7 linked regions of the Homo sapiens genome follow. The protein of the gene in region 1 purifies or fractionates together with the protein of each later gene. This does not show direct contact. Each region holds a gene or a part of one and is shown on either strand. Other genes may lie near its edges. The genes, in order: OBSL1, EIF5B, DDX27, RALY, HDLBP, KIF22 and NELL1.

Evidence for each region.
Region 2: the proteins of OBSL1 (region 1) and EIF5B purify together in Homo sapiens (affinity purification with mass spectrometry, with the first as the bait; 2 studies listed by BioGRID). This does not show direct contact.
Region 3: the proteins of OBSL1 (region 1) and DDX27 purify together in Homo sapiens (affinity purification with mass spectrometry, with the first as the bait; 2 studies listed by BioGRID). This does not show direct contact.
Region 4: the proteins of OBSL1 (region 1) and RALY purify together in Homo sapiens (affinity purification with mass spectrometry, with the first as the bait; 2 studies listed by BioGRID). This does not show direct contact.
Region 5: the proteins of OBSL1 (region 1) and HDLBP purify together in Homo sapiens (affinity purification with mass spectrometry; 2 studies listed by BioGRID). This does not show direct contact.
Region 6: the proteins of OBSL1 (region 1) and KIF22 purify together in Homo sapiens (affinity purification with mass spectrometry, with the first as the bait; 2 studies listed by BioGRID). This does not show direct contact.
Region 7: the proteins of OBSL1 (region 1) and NELL1 purify together in Homo sapiens (affinity purification with mass spectrometry; 3 studies listed by BioGRID and IntAct, with this or other methods). This does not show direct contact.

Annotation. Positions count from the first base shown.
Region 1 is NC_000002.12:219,561,540-219,565,039, reverse strand, and holds part of OBSL1 (obscurin-like protein 1 isoform 1 precursor), read left to right. Parts: intron 1-1,412; coding exon 1,413-1,685; intron 1,686-2,365; coding exon 2,366-2,638; intron 2,639-3,031; coding exon of another isoform or gene 3,032-3,156; exon of another isoform or gene 3,157-3,318; intron 3,319-3,500. UniProt on the Homo sapiens protein: Core component of the 3M complex, a complex required to regulate microtubule dynamics and genome integrity. It is unclear how the 3M complex regulates microtubules, it could act by controlling the level of a microtubule stabilizer.
Region 2 is NC_000002.12:99,364,889-99,368,388, reverse strand, and holds part of EIF5B (eukaryotic translation initiation factor 5B), read right to left. Parts: intron 1-3,500. UniProt on the Homo sapiens protein: Plays a role in translation initiation.
Region 3 is NC_000020.11:49,222,416-49,225,915, reverse strand, and holds part of DDX27 (probable ATP-dependent RNA helicase DDX27), read right to left. Parts: intron 2,960-3,500; coding exon 2,900-2,959; intron 2,649-2,899; coding exon 2,483-2,648; intron 972-2,482; coding exon 925-971; intron 804-924; coding exon 717-803; intron 1-716. UniProt on the Homo sapiens protein: Probable ATP-dependent RNA helicase. Component of the nucleolar ribosomal RNA (rRNA) processing machinery that regulates 3' end formation of ribosomal 47S rRNA.
Region 4 is NC_000020.11:34,080,911-34,083,147, forward strand, and holds part of RALY (RNA-binding protein Raly), read left to right. Parts: 3' UTR 1-2,237. UniProt on the Homo sapiens protein: RNA-binding protein that acts as a transcriptional cofactor for cholesterol biosynthetic genes in the liver. Binds the lipid-responsive non-coding RNA LeXis and is required for LeXis-mediated effect on cholesterogenesis.
Region 5 is NC_000002.12:241,309,173-241,312,672, forward strand, and holds part of HDLBP (vigilin), read right to left. Parts: intron 1-3,500. UniProt on the Homo sapiens protein: Appears to play a role in cell sterol metabolism. It may function to protect cells from over-accumulation of cholesterol.
Region 6 is NC_000016.10:29,800,751-29,803,317, forward strand, and holds part of KIF22 (kinesin-like protein KIF22), read left to right. Parts: exon of another isoform or gene 1-52; intron 53-2,018; coding exon 2,019-2,187; intron 2,188-2,567. UniProt on the Homo sapiens protein: Kinesin family member that is involved in spindle formation and the movements of chromosomes during mitosis and meiosis. Binds to microtubules and to DNA. Plays a role in congression of laterally attached chromosomes in NDC80-depleted cells.
Region 7 is NC_000011.10:20,668,242-20,672,385, reverse strand, and holds the start of NELL1 (protein kinase C-binding protein NELL1 isoform 1 precursor), read right to left. Parts: upstream 2,801-4,144; 5' UTR 2,663-2,800; coding exon 2,608-2,662; intron 1-2,607. UniProt on the Homo sapiens protein: Plays a role in the control of cell growth and differentiation. Promotes osteoblast cell differentiation and terminal mineralization.

The sequences.
Region 1 (3,500 bases):
GCTGGAGGGCAGTGGCGTGATCTCAGCTCATTGCAACCTCCGCCTCCTGGGTTAAAGCGATTCTCTCACCTCAGCCTCCCAAGTAGCTGGGACTACAGGTGCGCGCCACCACGCCCAGCTAATTTTTTTATTATTTGGTAGAGACGGTTTCACTATGTTGGTTAGGTCACCCCTGACCTCAAATGATCTGCCCGCCTCAGCCTTCTAAAATGCTGGGATTATAGGTATGAGCCACCATGCCTGGCTTTCTTTCTTTCTTTCTTTTTTTAAGATGAGGGTCTCACTGTTGCCCAGGCTGGCCTTGAACTCCTGTGCTCAAACGATCCTCCTTCCTCAGCCTCCTGAGCAGCTGGGATTATAGGTGTGTGCCACGCACAGCGTGCCTTTGCCTCCTAAACCCCTGATACACTAACACTGTCTCGCTGTCCACATAGCCTCTGCTGGGTTGGGTGGGGGAACAAAATGCAATTAAGGGGAGGAGAGATGGGAGCAAACACTTTTTGGACACTTACTCTGAGCCAAGCACTATGCTAAGTATTTTCAATATACACTCTTTCATTTAATCTTCACAACTCGATGAGGGGCAATATATCTCCAGTTCACAGGCAAAGAAATGGAGGCTGTAAGAGGTTATGTGACCTCCGTCACACCATAGCTTGGCGACACACACAGGATTGTTCTGTTCCTGCTGCCTCAGATAGAGTCAAACAGAAGCATCGAGTGCAGTCACCCCGTGGTTCTCACAAGGCAGTCCGTAGGCTGGCTGCTTTAGGAAGCTCCTGGAAGCTGGTTATAAATCCCTGGACTGTCCAGAGCCCCAGTATCCAGGGTGGAGCCTGAAGATCCTTTCCTAACAAGTGCAGACTCTCTGAGAGAGCAGCTTGGGAACCATGGATCCCACTCATCTCACTGAGTGGGAGTCCTGTTTTCCACACTGTGGCCCCTGCCTGAATGCACCCAGTGACAGGGAACCCACTACCTGGAGAGTGGCTGTCTCACTGTTGCCACTTGTTGGATCATCCTTCACCTCCTGCCCACCCTGGGGTCTTTCTCGTAATAGAGGCAGTAAGCATGGCCCTGATGTGACTTGTGACAGTGACCTCCCTTCAGCCTAGACAAATGGTGGCTGCCACTCTGTGAACTCTCTGTGCTTCCTTCTCTCTATGTACTCACCCCGCCACCTCTGATCCTTTGGGGACCTACAGAGCACTCTGGTGCCACATGATCTCCTGCCATGCCTCACCTGCCATGCCCTCAGCATTCCTTGTCATTGTCCCTGAGTCCCTACACAGCAGGACCTTAGCCCTCCTCCAGTGTCCTCTTGTGCAGAAACAGTGTCTCCTGGCCACACAGCTAGTTTGGACTCATTGTGCGGGGGTGTCTGTGCAATGCCATCTCTGCTTCCCACCCAGATCCTCCCGTGCACATCGTGGACCCCCGAGAACATGTGTTCGTGCATGCCATAACTTCCGAGTGTGTCATGCTGGCCTGTGAGGTGGACCGAGAGGACGCCCCTGTGCGTTGGTACAAGGACGGGCAGGAGGTGGAGGAGAGTGACTTCGTGGTGCTGGAGAATGAGGGGCCCCATCGCCGCCTGGTGCTGCCCGCCACCCAGCCCTCAGACGGGGGCGAGTTTCAGTGCGTCGCTGGAGATGAGTGTGCCTACTTCACTGTCACCATCACAGGTGGGGGGCCAGGTGGGCCTCGGAGGCACAGGGGAAGGTGCCCCTGCTCCCACTGGAACAGCTGCCACACCTTCACTCCCAGGCCACTGTTCCCCGCCCCTACTGCCCTCCCCCTGGCAGATCGGACCTCCTCCCTTTCTCCTCAAGCTATGGTCTAGTCACATTCAGGAAACGTGTTATCATAAGCACATTGGTCTTGGCTAAGGAAGCCTGGCTTTCTCTATTCTCCTGAAAACCTGTACCAAGGGAAATCTCTGGGGACAGTGAGTCTATTGCAGGGTAGGGCAGAGTCTAGGGCTGGTGGTCTCAGGCACTAGGGGGGCAAAAACATCTTGGAGGAGGAGACCCCCAGCTCCTCCCCCCAACCCTCCTCTCATCAGTTCCACCCTTCATACCGTCCCTGTCCCAACCCAGAGAATGTGGAGCGTTTCTACAGCCGAGGCTGACCCCGTGGTCCCCTCTGTGCAGCTCCTGCGCAGCAGAAAGTCTGCTGTGCTTTTGTGACAGCTGTATTCGTGTGTCTCTAGCTGTGAGTAACTGTCAGCTGCTGTGAGATTTGGTCTCAGGAAGGTCCCTCTTCAACACATGGCCTACTTTCCAGGGGTAGGGAACACAACGGGGTCAGGGAGGACGGCAGGGCACACCCCTCATGCCCGGCAGTGGCTGTCCCTGTCCTCCAGACGTCTCCTCGTGGATCGTGTATCCCAGCGGCAAGGTGTATGTGGCAGCCGTGCGCCTGGAGCGTGTGGTGCTGACCTGTGAGCTATGCCGGCCCTGGGCAGAGGTGCGCTGGACCAAGGATGGAGAGGAGGTGGTGGAGAGCCCCGCGCTGCTCCTGCAGAAGGAAGACACTGTCCGCCGCCTGGTGCTGCCCGCTGTCCAGCTCGAGGACTCCGGCGAGTACTTGTGTGAAATTGACGATGAGTCGGCCTCCTTCACTGTCACCGTCACAGGTGTGGGCCCAGCCCAGCTCCCCGGGGTCACAGAGACAGCCCTGAGCCCTGGAGGAGCTGGCCACATAGCCCCAGCTAGCACCCCGGGGAGGAGGGAGGTGTGGGCTGCAGGTGCATGTGCCAGGGTTCTTGCTGAGATGAGCCCAGGGCCCCTATTCAAGGAAACAAGCCCCTCCCCGGTGCCCAAGGCCAGGCCTAGCTCTGCTCCACAGCTCATTTACTGAGCACTTTCCCTGAATCAGGCACTGGGAGTAGCAGGTGAGTAATGCAAATACGGTCCCTATTCTGAATGAGCTGCCAGGCTAGGTGAGGAGGCAGCTGTTAACCAGGGGTCGCAAACGGGTAGTCCTGGGGCCCTGCGCATTCCACACATGTGCTTTGTTTGGTCTGCAGAGTCTTACCAAAGTCAGGACAGTTCAAATAACAATCCGGAGTTATGCGTCCTCTTGAAAAAGCCGAAGACCCGGCGGCTCTGGTCCCGCTTCCCCCCATGGCGACGAACAGCTGGCACTGAGTAGCAGCTGCCCCCATAGTTTGGGGCCCACATTCCTCTGTCCCACCTCCCTGCCATTGCTTTTTGCCTCTCCCCAGACTGCTTCAGCCGCTAACCTAACCTGGCCCCTGTGGGCATTTGAGTTTGCGACCCCTGTGTTAAACCAATAAACATGCAAATAAATGTACAGTGACACCTGGTGATAAGTACTGTGAGGGCCAAGGGCAGAGGGCTCAAGAGCACAGAGCAGGAGGGTCAGGGAGGCCTGGGAGAAAGTCACCCTTCCACACACGGGAGCCAGCAGCACGCAGACACGGCCGCTTCCCTCTAGGACTGCACAGCCTGGCAGGAAAGCCAGACGCATTCCAG
Region 2 (3,500 bases), about 120 Mb from region 1:
AAAATATGAAAGGATATTCATGGAAAAACTTGTATCTTTTACATATAAGGTATTTTAAAATTTACATACAGTAAAAATCCTCGTTTCACATACAGTGAGAGTTTTGATACGTGTATCACCATCACAATGAAGATGCAGAAAAGCTCCATCACTCCATCATCCTGTGCTGCTCCATGTAATCAAACCCTCCTTACCTTCTTAGCCTCTGGTAACCACTGATCTGTTCTCCAACCAAAAGATTTGCTTTTTCTAAAATGTCACATAAATGGAATCTTACGGTCTGGCCTCTATCATCATAATGGATTTGAGAGTCACTCACTCTGCTGCACATGTCAATACTTCGTTTACTTTCATTGTTGGGCAGCATTCCATTGTATGGATATATCAGTTTGCTTATCCATTCAACAGCTGAAGGACATTTGAGTTGTTTCTGGTTTTTTGCAATTATGAATAAAGCAGGTATGAACATTTTCAGACAGGTTTCTGTGTGAACATTTCTCTTGGGCAAATATTTTGTAGTGTGAATGATGAAACATAAGGTAAATATGACCTTAATTTTTATAAAGACACTGCCAGTTGTTTTCCAAAGTGGCTATACTATCTTGCATTCCCACCACTAATGCAGAAGAGTTTTGGCCAGGCGCAATGGCTCACGCCTGTAATCCCAGCACTTTGGGAAGCCGAGGTGGGTGGATCACCTGAGGTCAGGAGTCCAGGACCATCCTGGCCAACATGGTGAAACCCCATCTCTACTAAAAATACAAAAAATTGTATTATATAAAATATATATATATTGTGGTGGTGGGTGCCTATAATCCCAGCTACTCAGGAGGCTGAGGCAGGAGAATCACTTGAACCTGGGAGGCAGAGGTTGCAGTGGGCTGAGATTGCGCCACTGCAATCCAGTCTGGACAATAGCGAAACTCTGTCTCAAAAAAAGAGAGAAAAAAAAAAAAAGAGTTTCAACTGCTCTGAATGTGGTAAAGGTTTCTCTTTTTTTAGAACATTCTTTTCAGATGCGTATAGCTTTCTGGTGAAAGTGTCTGTTGATACCTTTTGCCCATTTTTAAATGAACTTATTGGTTTTCTTATAGTTGAATTTTGAGAGGTCTTTATATATTTTGGATGTTAATTCTTTCTCAGATATCTGACTTGGAGGTACTGTCTTGGAATTCTCTTGACAGTGTCTTTTGCAGAGAAAAGTTCTGAACTGGTCTTTCTCAAAATGTATCTTTTTTCCTTTTATGGTTTAGAGTCCTATCTAAGCACTCTGCCTAACACAAGATATCCTCCTATGTTTTCCTCTGAAAGTATTATTGTATATTTTACATTTACATATGATACCCATTTGGGTCAATTTTTATACAGTGGGAATTAAAACTGGTTTTGGGTTTTTCTGCATACAGATGTCCAATTGTTCTAGTACCACTTGCTACAAATACTGTATTTTATCCACTGAATTACCTTTCACCTATATACTAACCATGTATAGACTATTTATCTGTTTGTCTATCTTTCTGGCAATATCACACTGTATTAATTCCTATAGCTTTATACTAAGTCTTGAAATCAGGTATTCTAAGTTTGTTCTCCTTTTTCAAACATATTTTGGCCATTCTAACTCTCTGGTCTCTTCATATCCATTTTAGAACTAGTTGACAGATAGCTACAAAATACCATGCTGTGATTTTGACTGGGATTGAACTGAATCTACAGATTACTGGATTACTGACTCAGTCTCTCACTATGGGCAGAAGCCTTAGAATAAAGACAACAGAAATTGTATACCATGGGATTTTGAATGAAGTCACTAATAAAGGAAAATGACTAAAAATGTTATCTCTAACGTAGGAATGTATATGGATGTGTGTTGTGCATGTACTGAAGAATGGCTAGAATGGTAAAACCATAGCTATGACTGGTAAGACGAATACATTAAACAAACCAAAGAAAGAGGATAAAGCCAGCTGAGAATGCAGAGATCATCACTTTAAGTTTTCCTTGCCTAGCAGCCTACACCTACTAAGATGAAAAGCATGGGCCTGAGGGGAAACTGTAGGCTGGATTACCTGAAGGGTGGTCCCAATAACACCCTAGACTTAATCAACTGACTACTGCTCTAGTCTCAGACTCTCAAATAAGCTGCTGTACTTGGAATCAACACCAAGACTTGTATGTGTTTAGACATTCCATTCACTTTGCAAACTGAGACATAACAATCAAGTTCTTGAAGAAGCTCTTTGCCTGAAATGAGTTTATTACAAATTATTGATAAAGTACTCATATATGTGTGTGTGTGTATATGCTTAGTAGTCACAGGCTAAAGGATGACTGAAAAGTTAACCTGCTGCACATTTCAGAGCAATTATATGAAGACACCTGCAGATGCCTACACTCTCTGAGAGTACATTTTTAGCTCAATGAATAAGTTTTACAATATTCTAGGTAATAAATGTGGTAAGCAGCTGTCTTTCAAACATACGATGAAACAACACTGTAGGATCTTTTAATGAGATGACTCACATGAGTGGGCTGTGGGTGGGGGGGAACCTTGAATGTCAAGCTAAGGAATTTGGATTCTTATTAGTAGACAATAGGGAACTAATAAGATGGTAAACACTGGACAACACTATGAAGAGTAAGAGACCAGCGTCAGGGATGCCACTTGAGAGAGCATCTCTTACAAGCCTAATGCTAAAGACTGATGCTAAAAGTCCACCATTCTACACTGTAATTTCCATAACTACAAGTCTAACTGCTCCTTAAAACAGCATTTTTGAGACTGGCAAATTACTCCCTGCTTGGTCCCATCTGAATTTCTTCATGGGTGCTTTTAGCCTCTCCAATAGTCACCAATGAAATCTGATGTATGAATGCTAACTATATTCAAGTTTGTACCTAATTTCATTTAAAATTTTACAAAAGCTATATTCTCCATTAAGAATAAAACTTTCTAAAATCTAAGTACTGGGTTTCTTCACATCTAATGTTCCTAGCTGAACATATGCGTAAGAAAAAGTTGCACAGACCAGCTTAAATTTCAGCTCTGTGGCCTTGGGTAAGCTGTTTACACTCTGAACCACCATTTCTTCATCTATATGATGGAAGTAAAAATAGCTATAAGATTTTTTTATGAGGGAAAAATAGACAATGTCAAAGACATTGTAGCATCAGTTACACACTAAGCACACAATAAATGGTAGCTATTACTGTAATTATAGCATAAACACCAAAATGACTGTAATATAAAAATCTAGGGAATATAGGAGCAGGAAATTTAAGAGAGGTCCCAATATATTCTTCTCATTGGAGCAAAGACACTATTTTAAATCACCTTACCTTTCAAAAAAGTAATAAATTATATGCCCAGTTGTGATCTCTAAACACTATTACCCTCTAAAAGGAACAAAAGCTCTTTGGATAAACAACCGATTCCAGGTCTCAGCCCATGCAAGATGAACCTGGGATATCTTGTTGCATCAGAAAGTAAGGAAAGGGTT
Region 3 (3,500 bases), on another chromosome or scaffold:
ACGAGTGCCAGGAGGTGTCGTCAGAGAGGGCCAGAAGGGGCAGAGCCTTGTAGGTCAATATAAGGACTCAGGCTTCTAAGAAGAGTGAGACTGGGAAGTACTGAAGGACTCAGAGAAGAAGAGGAGGGACACGATGGAACTCATTGCTTAAGAGAGTTCTCGGCCGGGCGCGGTGGCTCACGCCTGTAGTCCCAGCACTTTGGGAGGCTGAGGCGGGCGGATCACGAGGTCAGGAGATCGAGACCATCCTGGCTAACACGGTGAAACCCCATCTCTACTAAAAATACAAAAAATTAGCAGGGCGTGGCAGCGTGTGCCTGTAGTCCCAGCTGCTGGGGAGGCTGAGGCAGGAGAATGGCGTGAACCCGGGAGGTGGAGGTTGCAGTGAGCCGAGATTGTGCCACTGCACTCCAGCCTGGGCGACAGAGTGAGACTCCGTCTCAAAAAAAAAAAAAAAAAAAAGGGAGTTCTCTGGCAACTGTATGGACAAGAGTTGAGGGAGGCAAAGAGAGAAGCAGAAAGTCCAGTTAGGGGTGGCTGCAATAATCCCATGGTTGCCAAAATAAGCCACTACTGGCCAGGCACAGTGGCTCAAATCCCAGCACTCTGGGAGGTTGAGGCAAGAGGATTGCTTGATGCCAGGAATTTGAGACCATCTTGGACAACATAGCAAGACCATGCTTCTACAAAGAAAATTTTTGACAAGAAGCTGCTACCTTCAGAAGAGGGCGGGAAAGGTTCATGTCCTGGAACGAGAGGTTTTCATCGTACTGAGATGCATCTTCAAAAAATCCTCCTGCTTCCTACACCAGAAAACCAAAAGAGAGAAGAGAATTCAACAAAAAGAGCCAAGAAACCCAAACGACCTTAAACTCCTTTCGGTTTGCCAACAAGCTGCATACTGTCTTGCAGCCCCAAGCTCACCTGTCCTTTCTTCTTCTTCTTCTTCCGATCCTTTACTTTGAGTGTATCTATGGAGAAAAACTTAGCTGATGACCACGGCTCAGACTTACAAAGCACTTGCATCCTGCTGGACACTGTCCTAAGTGCCAATGCCACACTTCAGCCTCTGAGGGGTGACCATCGTCAACCTTGTTTCACAGATGAGGACACTTTGTGGCAGCATGGTGAAGTAACTTGCCTAAGGTCAGAGAGAAAGCTAACCCAGTGACTCTGGTCCAGAGACCAGGCTCTCGACCACTACACTGTATTATGATGCTTTAGCACACATTTCTGCAAGAAATACTTATTGAGGGCGGAAGCAGTGGCTCCCGCCTAAAATCCCAGCACTTTAGGAGGCCGAGGCAGGTGGATCACCTGAGGTCAGGAGTTCGGGACCAGCCTGTCCAACATGGTGAAACCCCATCTCTACTAAAAATACAAAAATTAGCCAGGTGTGTTGGCGTGTGCCTGTAGTCCCAGCTACTTGGGAGGCTGAGACAGGAGAGTTGCTTGCACCCGGGAGGCAGAGGTTGCAGTGAGCTGAAATTGTACCACTTGCACTCCAGCCTGAGTGACAGAGTAAGACTCCATCTCAAAAAAAAAAAAAGAAAGAAAGAAATACTTATTGAGCACCCACTATGTGGCTGGACCCATCTGAGTATGTCACCCCAAATGAGTTTGTATCACAGTGGCATCTGGCAGCCGCATGGGGCTAGATGGGAAAAGAGTAAACTACCTATGAAGTACAACAACCCAAACAAAATCCCAAGAGAAAAGAAAACCTAAAAGAAAGGATTCAGCGGGCACAGTGGCTCACGCCTGTAATGCCAGCACTTTTAGAGGTCAAGGCGGGAGGACTGCTCGAGCCTAGAAATTTGAGACTAGCCTGAGCAACAAAGCAAGACCCCGTCCCTACAAAAAAAAAAAATTAGCCAGGCGCAGGGGCATGCACCTGTAGGCCCAGCTACTTAGGAAGCTAAAGCAGGAGGATCACTTAAGCCAGTGAGTTCAAGCCTTCCAGTGAGGTATGATTGCACTACTGCACTCCAGCCTGTGGATGGAGTGAGACCACATCTCTTTTGTTTTGTTTTTTGAGACAGGGTCTCATTCTGTGGCCCAGGGTTAAGTTCAGTGGGACAATCTCAGCTCACTGCAACCTCTGCCTCCCAGTTTCAAGTGATTCTCGTACCTCAGCCACCTGAGTGGCTGGGATTACAGGTGCATGCCACTACACCAAGCTTATTTTTGTATTTTCAGTAGAGATGGGGTTTTACCATGTTGCCCAGGCTGGTCTCAAACTCCTGGCTTCAAGCGATACACCCACCTCAGCCTCCCAAAGTACTGGGATTACAGGCATGAGCCACTGCACCCAGCCAACATCTCTTAAAAAAAAAAAAAAAAGAAAGAAAGGAGTTCAATGTAGTAGGCAGAACAGCTTAAAGATAAACTGTGCAGAAGAGTGGAGGAAACCCTACAAAGTAAAGGAGGATGCCTTCTGATCTCCTGTCCCCATTACTGACACCTCCGCCGTAACGTCTACCTGCTTTGGTGAGGATGTTCTCATCAGCTGATGAGTAGTCAGTCTCCGAGGCTTCATCTTCTGAGCCTTCCTCATCATTCTCTTGAAGGTCTTCCTGCTCCTTTGGTTCAGAGCCTTCCTTTGCTTCTTTCTCCTTTTCCAACTTCCCAGACTTGGCTTCTTTATCCTGGGAAAAAAATTAAAGTGAGGGTGATGAGAAACTTCTAGAAATCCAGAACCTAAGTAGAGCGATAGGAAGCTCTCCGGCCTGAATGAACGGCTGTGGGGATTCTCAGTACAGATTCACAGCAAACACACAGAAGAGTGCGCCTGCCCCAGCCATGCCCCGCTCTATAAGGGCTTCCAGAGAGATGCTGGGGTCGTGGTGAGAGTAAAGAGTGGGCCCTAACAACGAAAAATAGCCACTTTTCTTCTCACCTCTGTTTTCCTTTTCTTTCGAACTTTCTCAATCTTCTCATCTAATGTAGTGGCTGCCCTCTGCAGATAAAAATAAAGAGGTGAAAAAGAAATTTTCATTGAAACATCGAATAAGAGAACAAACTCTTCATAATTAACTTGAAAAAGAAAAAATTTTGGCCTTCTCTGAAAATACATATACATATTATATATATAAAAATTTTAGGCCGGGCGCGGTGGCTCACGCCTGTAATCCCAGCACTTTGGGAGGCCGAGGTGGGTAGATCACCTGAGGTCAGGAGTTCGAGACCAGCCTCAACATGGAGAAACCCTGTCTCTACTAAAAAAATACAAAATTAGCCGGGTGTGGTGGTGCATGCCTGTAATCCCAGCTACTCGGGAGGCTGAGGCAAGAGAATTGCTTGAACCTGGGAGGCGGAGGTGGCAGTGAGCCGAGATCACGCCATTGCACTCCAGCCTGGGCAACAAGAGCAAAACTCCGTCTCAAAAAAAAAAATTTTTTTAATCCTCTCCAGACGATCTTGAAAATGCAGTGCTGGTAAGGCTGAGCACAGTGGCTCATGCCTGTAATCCCAGCTACTCAAGAGGCTGAGGCAGGAGA
Region 4 (2,237 bases), on another chromosome or scaffold:
AGCGTACTCCAGTGACAGCAATCAGTAGGAAGTTTGCATCCGGAGACACGCAGCCTGTCTGCCCCTGTCTTGGGCCACCCGTCTAGACATTTGTTCTCTAACAATCAGCCGGGTTCCTTCAAACGTGTGCTGCTTATACATGCTCATTGTGTACTGCTAATGTCACCTACTTCCCCCTTCATTCCCCACAATGAATGGATCCATTTTCCCCATGTTCAAGTTCCCAAGAGAGAATCGACTGCCACTGTAATTTTTTTTCCTAATCACTCATAGGTTACAAGTACCTACCCTGGTCCAGTGAACTGCGGGATTCATATGTGGCCACTTAGGCTGGTCTCGTTGGTATGGAGCTGTGGGAGGGCAGCACCCAGAAATAGGCTTTGTTCCAGGCCTGGCACGTACTCCTCCTGCTCCTACTTTCTCTACCTGGGAAATAGCCGCTCAGGACGAAGCTGCTGCTGTGGTGTCGCCACCTCTGAGAAGTCTCCCAGACCCTCCGACTGCTCTTTAATTGCCTGTTCTCTCCTCTGGAAGCCTTCCCCCAACACAGAAAAATTCAATCCCATCATCAAAAAGGGCTTTAGGTTTTCCCTCCATCTTTACGTGTTGATCAAAGTTTGCAGATCTGCTGGAATCCTTATTGAAAACTCCCCATTTCAAACCAACCCGGTCTACAGCCTCCAGGGAAGCTTCCTCCTGGGCTTTGGCTCCATGTTTTGGTAGAGGGTGGAGGCTTTGGGCAGTGCTCAAACTCCACCGGGAAGTCTCTCTCACTGAGCAGCCCTCCTGCCTGTCATCCTGGGCAGGCGAGCACTCTGAGGCCCCAGTGTAGCTCTGTGCTTTGATATTCCCAAGCTCTGCTGGGGCCTGACTAGGCCAGCCCCAAGGTGGCCAGAGTTCTGGCTTCATACCTGAGCCAAAAGCCCCAATCCATGCTTGGCCATTGCCTGAGTATTAGCTGCCCCAGGGGGATCACGGTCCCCATATATTTGCTTGCCATGGACCCTGGGCAGCAGGGAGAGAGTAGAGATTTGTCAAGAGCCCATGGTGGAGGCTGAGGCCCTGAGGCCATGAGATGCAGGCATGGGGTGAGAAACAGGCCCCTTGGAATTGGGCTGGGCCTTGGCCCAGCTTAGTCAAATCAAAAGGCTTCTATTTGGAGAGCTGAAGAGGGTGTACAGAGGAAGGGGCTAGGTCTGCAAGGAGTGCCTCATCTCCCTGAAGAGCTCTCAGTGGAACATACTTCACCCATCCATGTACCCACATCTTTCCTTGCCCAGAAGGCGAGAGCCAGCTATAACAGACCCATTTCAATACCCTGGCAAGTCATTACTGCCCTTAGCTCTTGGTGTCCCCATCTGTGAAACATGGGGGACAGCTGCTAGCCTGGATTGGAACTTGGGCAAAGTCCAAAGAATGGGATTTAGAGCTGAATGAACCTCACACTGAGGGCACAATAGCACTAGGCACTGCCCCCAGAGCCTAGTGCTATATGCCTGCTGCAGGTCCTACCCAAGCATGCTTTACTGAGGAACTCAACGTTTCAGAGCTTGAGGGTCAGGTTGATCATGGGCTTGTGACCATAGGCTTCCTTAGTATGCCAGGCTTGGAGAACCGTGAGAAAAGCAGGGAAGATACCTTCAAGGGTAGCAGGCATCAGCTCTACTCACCTTGGCCCATAAGGCTTTGCCTGGTCATGCTGGCACCGGGTCATATGCTGGACAGGGAGAACGAGAGTCCCATCCTGGAACTCCAGAAAAGCCCCTGGATGCTCCAGCCCCTGGGAAAGCACACAGCCAGGCCCTTGGGTGGGAGGTTGGCTTCTAACAGTGCATACACATGCCCTTCCTCTGAGTCGGGGCAGCAAAAACATCCATTCCGCTGCGCAACAGTTGTCATTTTTCTAACATCTGAAAACTCCAGAAGGAGATGGTGATAAATGTGGTACCGGATTCTGCCTAAAGGATCAGTCTTTAGATGTTTTCAGATTGAAAGCCTCATTTGTGATCCTCACAGCCATCTTGAAAGAATAGAGCAGCCAGTGGGTATACTGGATTGTGAGCTAAGAGGCCTGGGACTTTCCCCCTGTTGCTGCCAGCCAGGTTGATGACCCTGGGCAAGTCTTTTTCCTTACCAGGTCTCAGTTTCCTCAGCTGTAAAATGAGAGGTTGATCTGGATCAGGGATAGTAAATGGGCCTTTGTTCAGTTACTGACTGTTGTATAACAAACCACCCCC
Region 5 (3,500 bases), about 22 Mb from region 1:
TCCCCTCGATACTTTATTTTCCTCCTTTCTTCTTGTCCACATTGGACATACTGCATATCTGCTGGTCTGCTGACTGCCTGACACCGCTTACCAAAACGTGACCTCCGTGAAAGTGCAGGAGAACACACTTGCATTTTCCTTACTGTGTCCCACTTCCTGGAACAGTGTCTCCAGCACGAGCCGTTGTCAGATCAATACATTTACACTACTTCGTGAAGCACCACTAAAATGATAGTAAACGATTTTTTCTTTTTTTAAGATACAAATCACGAAAGCAAAGAATAAGAATAGAGATAAGAACATTAAAATACTGGAGGCTAGAAACTGGAAACAGACCTAAAAGGGCTGAATCCTGTATCGGCAATGGGGAAGGCCAACTGGCAATATGACTGGAAGCCAGGAGACCTGAATTAAAAACAGAGTTGGCTGATAGGTTTAAAAGGCACGAAGATCCCTAAGATGCACCCCACAACTCTGCACAGCCACACAGAGCCAACCTGCACAGTCCCTCTCCTATCCTGGCAAAAAGGTATCGCTTTTCTGTCTGCAAAGGGAAGTAGAATCTTTGGACTGGGGACACCAGTTACAGAGGAGGGAAACAATTCTGAAAAGAGGGAAGTAAGCTCTTTTATGGTTACTGCTGTGCTCCCAGGCCTCTCTCCTCACTTGGCCACTCAGCCAGGCAAAGGGCTACAAGATATTTCTCTGGGGAATCTGAAGAAACCCAAAGAAGCTGACAAGGGTGCTGTAAGGAAATGGCCCAGCCAGGTGCCTCTGCAGTGAAAGCCACAGTCAGCCACAGACACAGGCTCAGAGGCCCTCTGACTCACGAGCAGGCACAAGAACATCACTGCATAGCCCAGAAAAGGCTGACAAAAGCCAAAAACCCACAACAAACCAGAGCAGCCTCAATAGTGACTTAAGGAAAAAGAAAACAGGGAAAAATAAAACCTCATCAATATCTTCCAACAGTTAACAGGAGATACCACATTCATGAAACAAAAAATAGGTTATAAAATAGGAATAGAGGGAACAAGAAAAAGCTCTTAGAAATGAGAAAAACCTTGGTAGAAGGGCTGGAAGACAAACTTGAGAATAACTTCCAGAAAGAAAATGAAAAACCAAAGGGTACAAAACATCAATTAGACAGGAGGAATGTGGTTTTCTTTTATGAGATATATTGTACAGCACGGTGAATATAGTAAATAATAATGTCGATTTCAAAAGTGCTGACAGTAATCTCATATGCTTTCACCACAAAAAACTTAAAGTATTTGAAGTGATGAATTATGTTAACTTGATTTTATTATTTATTGTATCCATAAATCGTAACATCACTTTGTACCCCCTAAATATGTACAAGTATAATTTGTCAATTTACAATTTAAAAGATAAAAACAAAAACAAAAATTTTAGAGGGGGGAAAAAGAAACCTTAAGAAAATTATGAGTGCCAATCCAGAAAGTCCAAGAGTAGAATTCTAGAGAGAGAGAGAGAAAGCAAATAGGAAGAAATCAAAGCAATAAATCAAAAAAATGCCCAGCGTTGAAGAACATGAGTTGCAAATAAACAGGACCAAAGAGTAGGCAAGACGATGGATGAAAACAGTCTCCAAGGGACATCACTGTTCTGGGAGTTCTGAATTTCACAGAAAGAAAAGCCTCTGAGGCCAGATGCAAAGCCTTCACTCCCAGCACTTCGGGAGTCTGAGGCAGGAGAATCACTTGAGGCCAGGAGTTCAAGATCAGCCTGGGCAACATAGAGAGCTCATGTCTACAAAAAGTTTTTAAAATTATCCAGGTGTGGCGGTGCATGCCTGTAGTCCCAGGTACTTGGGAGGCCGAGGCAGGAGCATCACTCAAGCCCAGGAGATTGCAGCTGCAGTGAGCTATGACAGCGCCACCGCACTACAGCCTGAGCAACAGAGCAAGACGCTGTGTCTCAAAAAAAAACAAAAGAAAGAAAGAAGAAAAAAAAGAAACAAAAACCTTCAGGTTTCATGGAGGAAAACATAGTCACACACAAAGGCTCTAAAAATGTTACGTATCAATAAAAGAGAATCAGAACGGCTTAAGACTTCAACAACACTGGAAACTTAGAGACCGCGGAGCAAAATGATGTCCAAATTCCTACTCAGGATAAGAGCAGAACGAGGCACTTTCGTACATACAAATTCTGAAAACTTCATCTGCCATGCACTTCTCAGGCAACTAGTGAAGGATGTGCTCCATCGAAGTGAGACAGTCAAATCAAGAGAATGACATAGGTTCCAGAAAAGTGAGGCTCCAACACAAGAGGGAGTGAGGAGAGTTACAGGAAGATTTCAGGCACAGACAAGCCTGCAGCAGATTGGAGGCGCTGGGAGAGATTTATTCAAGATAAAATGATAGGAATACTAATTTTCTTCAAAAGAAAACGGACAATTTCTTGAAAGATTTAGATAATTGCTTCAGAATTTGGGGTTGAATTGTAGTGACAAAATATAGAAAACTGAGCAAGCAGCAAGCAAACAAAAACAAATAAGACTTGTAATAACCCAGGAAAACAAAAAGTTATCCAGAAAAGTGAAAACAATCCTATTATACCACTTCGTCCAGCTGTAAATGGCAATATGTAGTCATAATATAAACAATCAATACTGAACTAACCAAATTAAGGATATATCACTTTGGGCAGCCATGGATCCGTTTGCACTGAGAAGGCAGAGGGTGAAAGAAAGCTAGGAACTTCCTACCTATTCTCAGTGTCAAGCGAAGAGACATCACATGAAACAGGGGTAGGAGACACAAATACAGACGTCAAGCAAATATGCTCTTTAGAGTTGGAGGCAAAGATCAAGGAAATCTACTAAGGCTGAAGTAGATACTCTGCAGGGGAGGAAACATGATTAGGGGAAGGATGTTGGCACTTCTTTCTTACAAGCCTTTCTAGGATTATCTGACTCTACAAATGACATGAAGCTGTAACCTTGATTTGAAATAAGATTAATATGAATGCTAATAAAAAGTAGTAAGGGAGAGTATGTAGTCAATGTATTCTTACCAAATTAACAACAAGTATCAACAAGATGACTAACACAACCACATGATGTCCAGACACGTCTCAGAACAAATGTCTAGCTCATCTTCAACGGTATTCGAGGAACTTCAGTGTGCTTGGTAAAACAATAGCCTACTAGGGATTTCACTTCTAAAATGTCTCTGACTTTAGAAATACCAAAAAATAACATGTAACCAAGTTTTAAAATATTATACACATGAAAAAAGGTTCTTTTCATTATTTTCTTGGTTTCCAGATGTTGAACGTTGTGGTGCTTTTACAATTGAAGAGAAAAAGCATTCTGACACATTATACTGGTTGGGGTTCTCTGCTTTTCTACTTGGTCAAAAACCTTTACACGCATTTTGGACTTTGTGTCATCATAACTTGGCAATTGGGAAAGCCGCATGATATGCTTCTTTCAGAACTTGGTTACTTCTTACCAAAAGAGGGAAAAGCTT
Region 6 (2,567 bases), on another chromosome or scaffold:
GCAAGACTGCATCTCAATAAATAAATAAGTAAATAAATAAATTCCCCCCAAATTCTACTCCATTGAATCACTAAAGTCTAAGATTAATCTCTCCTCAGTGCTGCTGCCTTGGGGACCTAAGGAGGCCTCCTCCTGGGGATCCTTTCCATTTTCCAACCCCTTTAGCCTTCAGCAAAACTTCTCACTTTGGGACAGCTGTTTCAAGGATGAGCATTTTTGCTTCTGGTTCAAGGAGTGATCTGGATCAGATCTTTCAGATCCATGAGAGCAAAGCAAAGGAGACTTGGAAGAGCTGTCCTGCTGAGACCATCTGGTCTGTGTGTCAGTGCCCAGCTTCTCCATGACTCTCCGGGGAGCCAGCTGCTGTCCTAACTGCGTCTACCCTCAATCCAGATAAAGCCTCTAAACTAAGTCCTTTGTGTCACCTCCTGCCCCAACTCCAATCACCCCACCTCATGGCCCAGTATGTACTAATCCTCAGGTCATCTCTGTTCAGGGGTCTTGCTTTCTGTGTCTGGCCACTTAGCCCTTGCGCTATTCCCTCCACCCCCCAGGAGCCAGTTGCAGTTTTAACTTTGCCCTGTTTCTACCCCTAGCCCAAATAAAGCCTGTGAACTACTAAACAGAGGTGACCTGAGGTGGCCAAGGGTTAGTGCCCACTCTGTCCCAGGGGGCTACTGTAGTTAAGGAAGATGCCACACACAAGAAGATGCTTGTGCACTCATGACCCCATCTCTCAGTCTTGTCTTTCCCAAACCATCTGTCAGCACTCCCCACTGCTGTGTGCACCCAGAAATGTGCACAGGTAAGCTGTCAGACAGGCACTCTGAGTAAGGGGAAGCTCAGAGTTGGGCACATCAAACCCAGCAGACCCAGAGCTTGGGGGCCTCACAGGAGAGCAAGTCAGATGGGAACATCAGTATATGATACCAGGTGGAGAATTCAGAATCAGGAAGGAGTAGCTGCTGCTGCTGTGAGAGTCAGGAAGGAAGAGATGACTTCTAGTGTTTGCCCACGTATGTTCTGATCCTGTTTTTCCAAGGCACTAGCATGGAAAGCACAGGAGTGTCCCTGTCCTCCAGGAGCCAGTTCACAGCATAGGAAGGGAGATGCATTGTTAAGCTTGGCGTCATGGGAAAGGTGGCATCAAACTGACCTGGAAAGATTATTGATACAGATGTGAGGAGGTGTGGGGCAAGATTCCAGGCAAAATAAATGAATGTTAGACGTTGCTGACTGGGCGCAGTGGCTCACACCTGTAATCCCAGCACTTTGGGAGGCCAAGGTGGGTGGATCACTTGAGCCCAGGAGTTCAAGACCAGCCTGGGCAACATAGTAAGACCCCATCTCTACAAAAAATAAAAAAATTAGCTGGGCATGGTGGCATGCACCTGTGGACCCAGCTACTCAGGAGGCTGAGACAGGGGGATTGCTTAAGCCTCAGGAGGCCAAGGCTATAGTGAGCTGTGATCTCAACACTGCACTCCAGCCTGGGTGACAGAGCAAGACCCTGTCTCAAAAAAAAAAAAAAAAAAAAAAAAAGAATGTTAAGCCTTACCGTGCTCAGAGTCAGTCAGGACTGCTTGAACAGGCCTTCCCAGCTGCCCACAGCAGGGAAGCTTGGCAGCTGAGGTCTTCGGTGGATTTCAAAGCCCTGCTAAAGATGGCATCCTCTGTGATGTTTTCCGCAACTGCTCCTCCAAATGGATAGGCACTGTCCTGGCTGTCACCTTATTATGGTCTCTTGATTTCCTCAGTAGACAGTGCCTCCAGGGCAGGGCAGTGTCTTAGGTCTCTCATACCTGGCACTCAAGTGTTCGCCTGATTTCCTGGCATCCCCGAGCAGTCACTTCACCTGATGAAGACACTGCACCCAGAGAAACTGGATGCCTAGCAAGTTAACATTAGGTTCTGGAGCTACAGGATATACCAAGTTAAGGTGTGGTGAGGGGAGTCCTGCTGCTGTAGGTGGTGATGAGGGAGGAGGTAGGTGGGGAGCAACTTCTTTTTCTGCTCAGCCCCCTACAGAAGCTAAGCAGCATGGACCCGGCCATGCTGGAGCGCCTCCTCAGCTTGGACCGTCTGCTTGCCTCCCAGGGGAGCCAGGGGGCCCCTCTGTTGAGTACCCCAAAGCGAGAGCGGATGGTGCTAATGAAGACAGTGGAAGAGAAGGACCTAGAGATTGAGGTACGTGTTTTAGGGATGTGGGAGCTGGATTCCTATTGGCCTTGAGAAGCAATCCTTGGATCTTCAGACAGGGAAGGACACTCAGGCTGGACTAGAGTCCAGTTTTCTCCCAATACCGGAAGTTCTCCAGCTTCTGCTTGAATGTCCTTAACATGGCTGAACTTTGACAGACAATTGAGACCAGATGTGAGGGTGAGAAGAAAAAGTTCAAAGTAAAAGCAACAAATGTTAAACATTACATTTCCTAAAGCCCAGCTCAATTAATTGAGGACTGTGCTTGAAAAGCCTTTCCCTTCAATATTTGCAGAGGCTTGTTCCACCTCTGGGTAGCCCCCTAATCACAGAAAGCCCTTAATTATGTTAGGCTCCACCTGTCTCCT
Region 7 (4,144 bases), on another chromosome or scaffold:
GCCGGTGATATCTGAGCAGCTCACTAAGTGAACCACATGTTTATTTCATCTAGGACTGTTAACAGCCCAGACAACAATTGTCCCACTTGACAAAGAAACTTTCAACGCAGCTGTTTGGATGCTGATAATCACAAGCCAGCCTTTGTTACCTAAGAAGAGGGTGGATGGATGATGTGGAAATGATTTCTGCACAGAATCAGAGGGCTGCCTCCAGAAAGCTACCGCTTATACCCTCTCAAGCTACAAGATACTTTAAGTGTACAAATTGAGAGGTAATTCCCCCGTCTCTCTGATTCTTCCGATAATGTGTGTAGAAGAAATATGCGGCCTCTAGTGTTCAAATAGTGCCAAGTGACATTGAGAACCCAAGCTCCCTAGGCAACAGCCACAACCAGTGGGTCAGATCCTTCCATGCTTCCCTGCCTTTGCTGAATCTGCTCCCTCTGCCAAGAATGCCTTCCCACTTTGTCCACCTGGAAAACTCCCTAGAAAGCCTTGAAGGTACATCTCTCAAATCCCTGACCACCACTCCTCCCTAGAATTAATTCAAACTGTCTCTCCTCCACATTTCCTTAATACAAACTTATACTCCTACCTCTCCACCACCCCCCCCATCAATCTGTAAAATTAAAATGCCTGCCAGTTTCTATCTAGATTCCCAGCTGAGCTTTAAGTTCCTAGAAGTCAAGGACTGTCATTTCCTCTTTGCATAAGAAATCCTGGCACCCAGCAAGACATCGTTTGTTGAATGAGTAAAGACATGAATGAATCTTCCCCTACAACGAAATTTTTACAAGATTTAAAGGGGATTGGAAGTGGAAAGAGGGAAAATACCTGTTCTTAAAGACCCCTTCCACAAGCAATGAACCCTGAAACACGTTCCATTCCGTGATAAGGGTACTTTGGCGACTTTTCAAAGGAGTAATGAGAACAAAGGATTTAGGCATATTCCGTAGTGATGTGCACTTAGGGATGTGAACTCACTAACGGGTTGCCCCCTCCCTACCTAGCTTCTTCCTGTCTGCGGTTCCTCTGTAAGATGTCCACGAGCACCAGACTCTCGCGCTCAGAGCCAGTAGCCCACGCTCTGCACTAGTCTTGCCTGTCCTGATCTTCCTGGGGTGCGCGCACTCCTTCAGCGTGTCCTGGTTTTAAAAGACTAACCCATCCGGATGGGCCTGAACTCAAGAAGCAACTATTCTAAGCTAGACTGAGCCTTGGCGTCTCCGCAGCCTGGGAAGCTCGGATAGAGGTAAGGAACGGAATGGGAGGTTTCTTTTGTCCCTTGAGAAATCCATATTCAACATTCTTAACCAGACGAAAGCCGCTGCCTGCTCAGTCCTGGGGAAGTGGGAAGGGCCCTCTGAAAGCTCCTAGACGCTAGATCTTCCAGCGGGCTAACTGCCAAAGAGGGGCGCCTGGGCGCAAGCGGAGGGAACTTTTGAGCCAACCAAGTGCAGACGCCCCTTCTTAGCCCTCTCCAGATGAACTTGCTCTTTGGCCTAGAGAGAAGGCCACGCCTCTAAAGAAGGAAATAAGGATGGTAAAGGGGGGAGAATAAAGGGAAAGGGAATGACCACACAGATTCTGGGGTGCAGCGCGTACGGAGGATGGCTGGGTAGGATTGCAAACCTCCGACACTCCCCCCAGTTGACAGGCCCTATTTTTGCCAATTTCCTACATCTCACCCCACCTCACCTCACCCCAGTCTCCCCGCATCTACTACTAGCTCTTTGAAGAAGGCGGCTGCAAGCCAGTCTCCGAACCCCAGGGGACTTTTGGGCAAGGGAGCCGGTGGAAGCAGAAGGAAGAAGATGCGCTGAGAGTCCTCACAACTGCGTCTCCGGAGGCAGAACGAAGTGGGGACTTCAGACAATCAAGCGTCATCCTTGCTCCCCCCTCCCCACACGGAACCCTGCGATTATGGCAAGAGAAAACTGGTTTGAGCTTGAGAAAATTTCCCCAGATTGTCTCCACTGCTCTATTTCCCTCAGATAATTGTTCGCCCAGCCCTTGGGAGCAAAGACAGGCGGAGGAGAATACTCCTGGAGTTCTCCTGGGTAGTCAGGAAGGCACAGGAGGAGATCGCGGGATCCCAGGGTTCTCCCGCAGCTCTCTGCCCTCGCCGCACCGCGCCCTCCCGGGCCCCGGCCGCGCCCGCCAGCCGGAAGCGCTCCCTCTGCGGGTGCGACTCCCGCAGCTACCCCTTCCCAGCCTGGCGGGGGTCGGCGAGAGTGGTTTCCACAGCACCTTACAAGTTCGGGAACTCGGGGCACGCGGGCCCGCCCTGCTGCGGGTTTCGACTCCCTGGGACGGAAAGCCGGTTACTAGCAGCAAGAGGGTGCGCCTACTCGGCCGCGCCCCTCACTCCTGCGCCCCTGAGGCCGGGTCCCCTGAGAAGGGGCACTCAACGGGGACATCTTCAAGCCCGTGAGTCCCTATTTTCACCCTGTCACTCCGAGCAGGGCAAAGAGATCCCAGGAACCGGTCCACGCTACCGCCGTTCCCCAGACCAGCGCAAAGCTCGGCTCCAGGTCTCCCCACGCCGCCGTGGTCTGTGGGCACCCCCATTTCCCGGATCCCTCTAACCGCCACAGTCATGCTTACCTGTCCTGGCAGTGCACACACAGAACCACACAACTAAAATCAAATCCATCGGCATCGCTCTCGAGGGTCCCCGCCTAGCAGGGGGCACCGAAGCTAGGTGGAAGCAAATGAGCCTGGATCCTGAGGCGCGCCTGGCTTGGAGCCGCCAAACTTGCTAGCGGGCGGCGGGGGAGGTGGCTCGGCAGCGCCGGGTGCTGCGCTCGCATATGCGCCCGGGAAGGCAGCCCCGGCCGCCCCGCCCCCAGCCCGCCCCCCACCGCTGGCGCGGCGGCGGCGGCGTGGGGCTCGGGGCCCGGCCCCCCGCTGCGGCTGCGTTCGTCTGGGAGCCCGGGCAGGAGCGCGGGGTTTGGCTACTGTGGCTTGTTGCGCTCCCCACTGGGGGCCGATTCCGTTCGCCTCCTTCGCCCGCAGAACTGCGAGGATCTGGACTGCAGGCGCCGCAGCCGCTATCACCCGGAGCACCGAAGTCGGAGTCCCAGGACCTGCGGCCGAAACGAGAGAGCGGGAGGCGCACGGCGCCCCCACGGCTTCACGCGCTCCAGCCCCTCCGAGCCGCAGTCGCCAATGTTGCCCTCTTTACTTCCGCACCGCGGTGGGGGCTGCCGAAGTTGCCACAGTTCATCCCCGCCGAGTCGAAAAGCCGCCGAGCCCTCGCGGGTGGGTATTTTTCCTCGGGGGAACCCAGACCGAGGCGGCGCCACCGAGCGCGCACGGACCCCCTCGGAAAACAATTACTCGGGATTCGCTCTGTCAACTGGGTGGGGAGGGACCTGAGGGGGATGATGGCTGAGTCCCTGCTCACCGCCTGTACCTTCTGTCTCCTCTCTCCTGTTGAACCCCTATGACTGAGTACTCTCTTTGTGGGTGCAGGAAGAGGGCGCTGAGGTGGGGGTGCAGAAAAGGGGTCCTCGAGGCGGAGCGAGCTGTGGTTGGGGTTTGGGAAGTCTATTTGCAAACCTTCTCATTCTGCAGGGCAGATGCTGCCACATAGGGGTAATTCCTAACCATCTTTTTTTCTTTCTTGCGTGATTTTCTTAATGGTATTATCAAAAGCCCACTCTTCTTTCATAGTCACATTTTGGCCCCATGTGCAATTCCTCCGGGACCTCCACCTTCTTTTCCCTCTCCCACCACAACATTCTCTGGAGAGAAAAGCTGGGCTGGGCTTTGTTTTCTACTTGCCGGCAAGAAGAGAATGGGTCCTCTCCCCTCTATGCGACCCTTTCAGGACCTGACCTTCCCTATGAAGATCCCCCAAATTTAAGACTTCTGTCCCACTTCCTATTTGTCCTACTAACACCTAGGAACGTTATTTATAACTGGATATGTAGAGTCATGAAATCTGAAATGACAGCCTCTGATTTATACCAAATGAACTCCACTTAGCTTGCTCAGTCTTCCCACTCTCTCTGAAGCCCCCGCTCCCCCTCACCAGCAGTACTCCTTTGATATTCACAACAGGGATCCCAGAGGAGTCCAAGGAAACCTCAGAACAGCCGTCCCTCGTTTCCTGGAAACCAATTCCAACGTTTCAGAA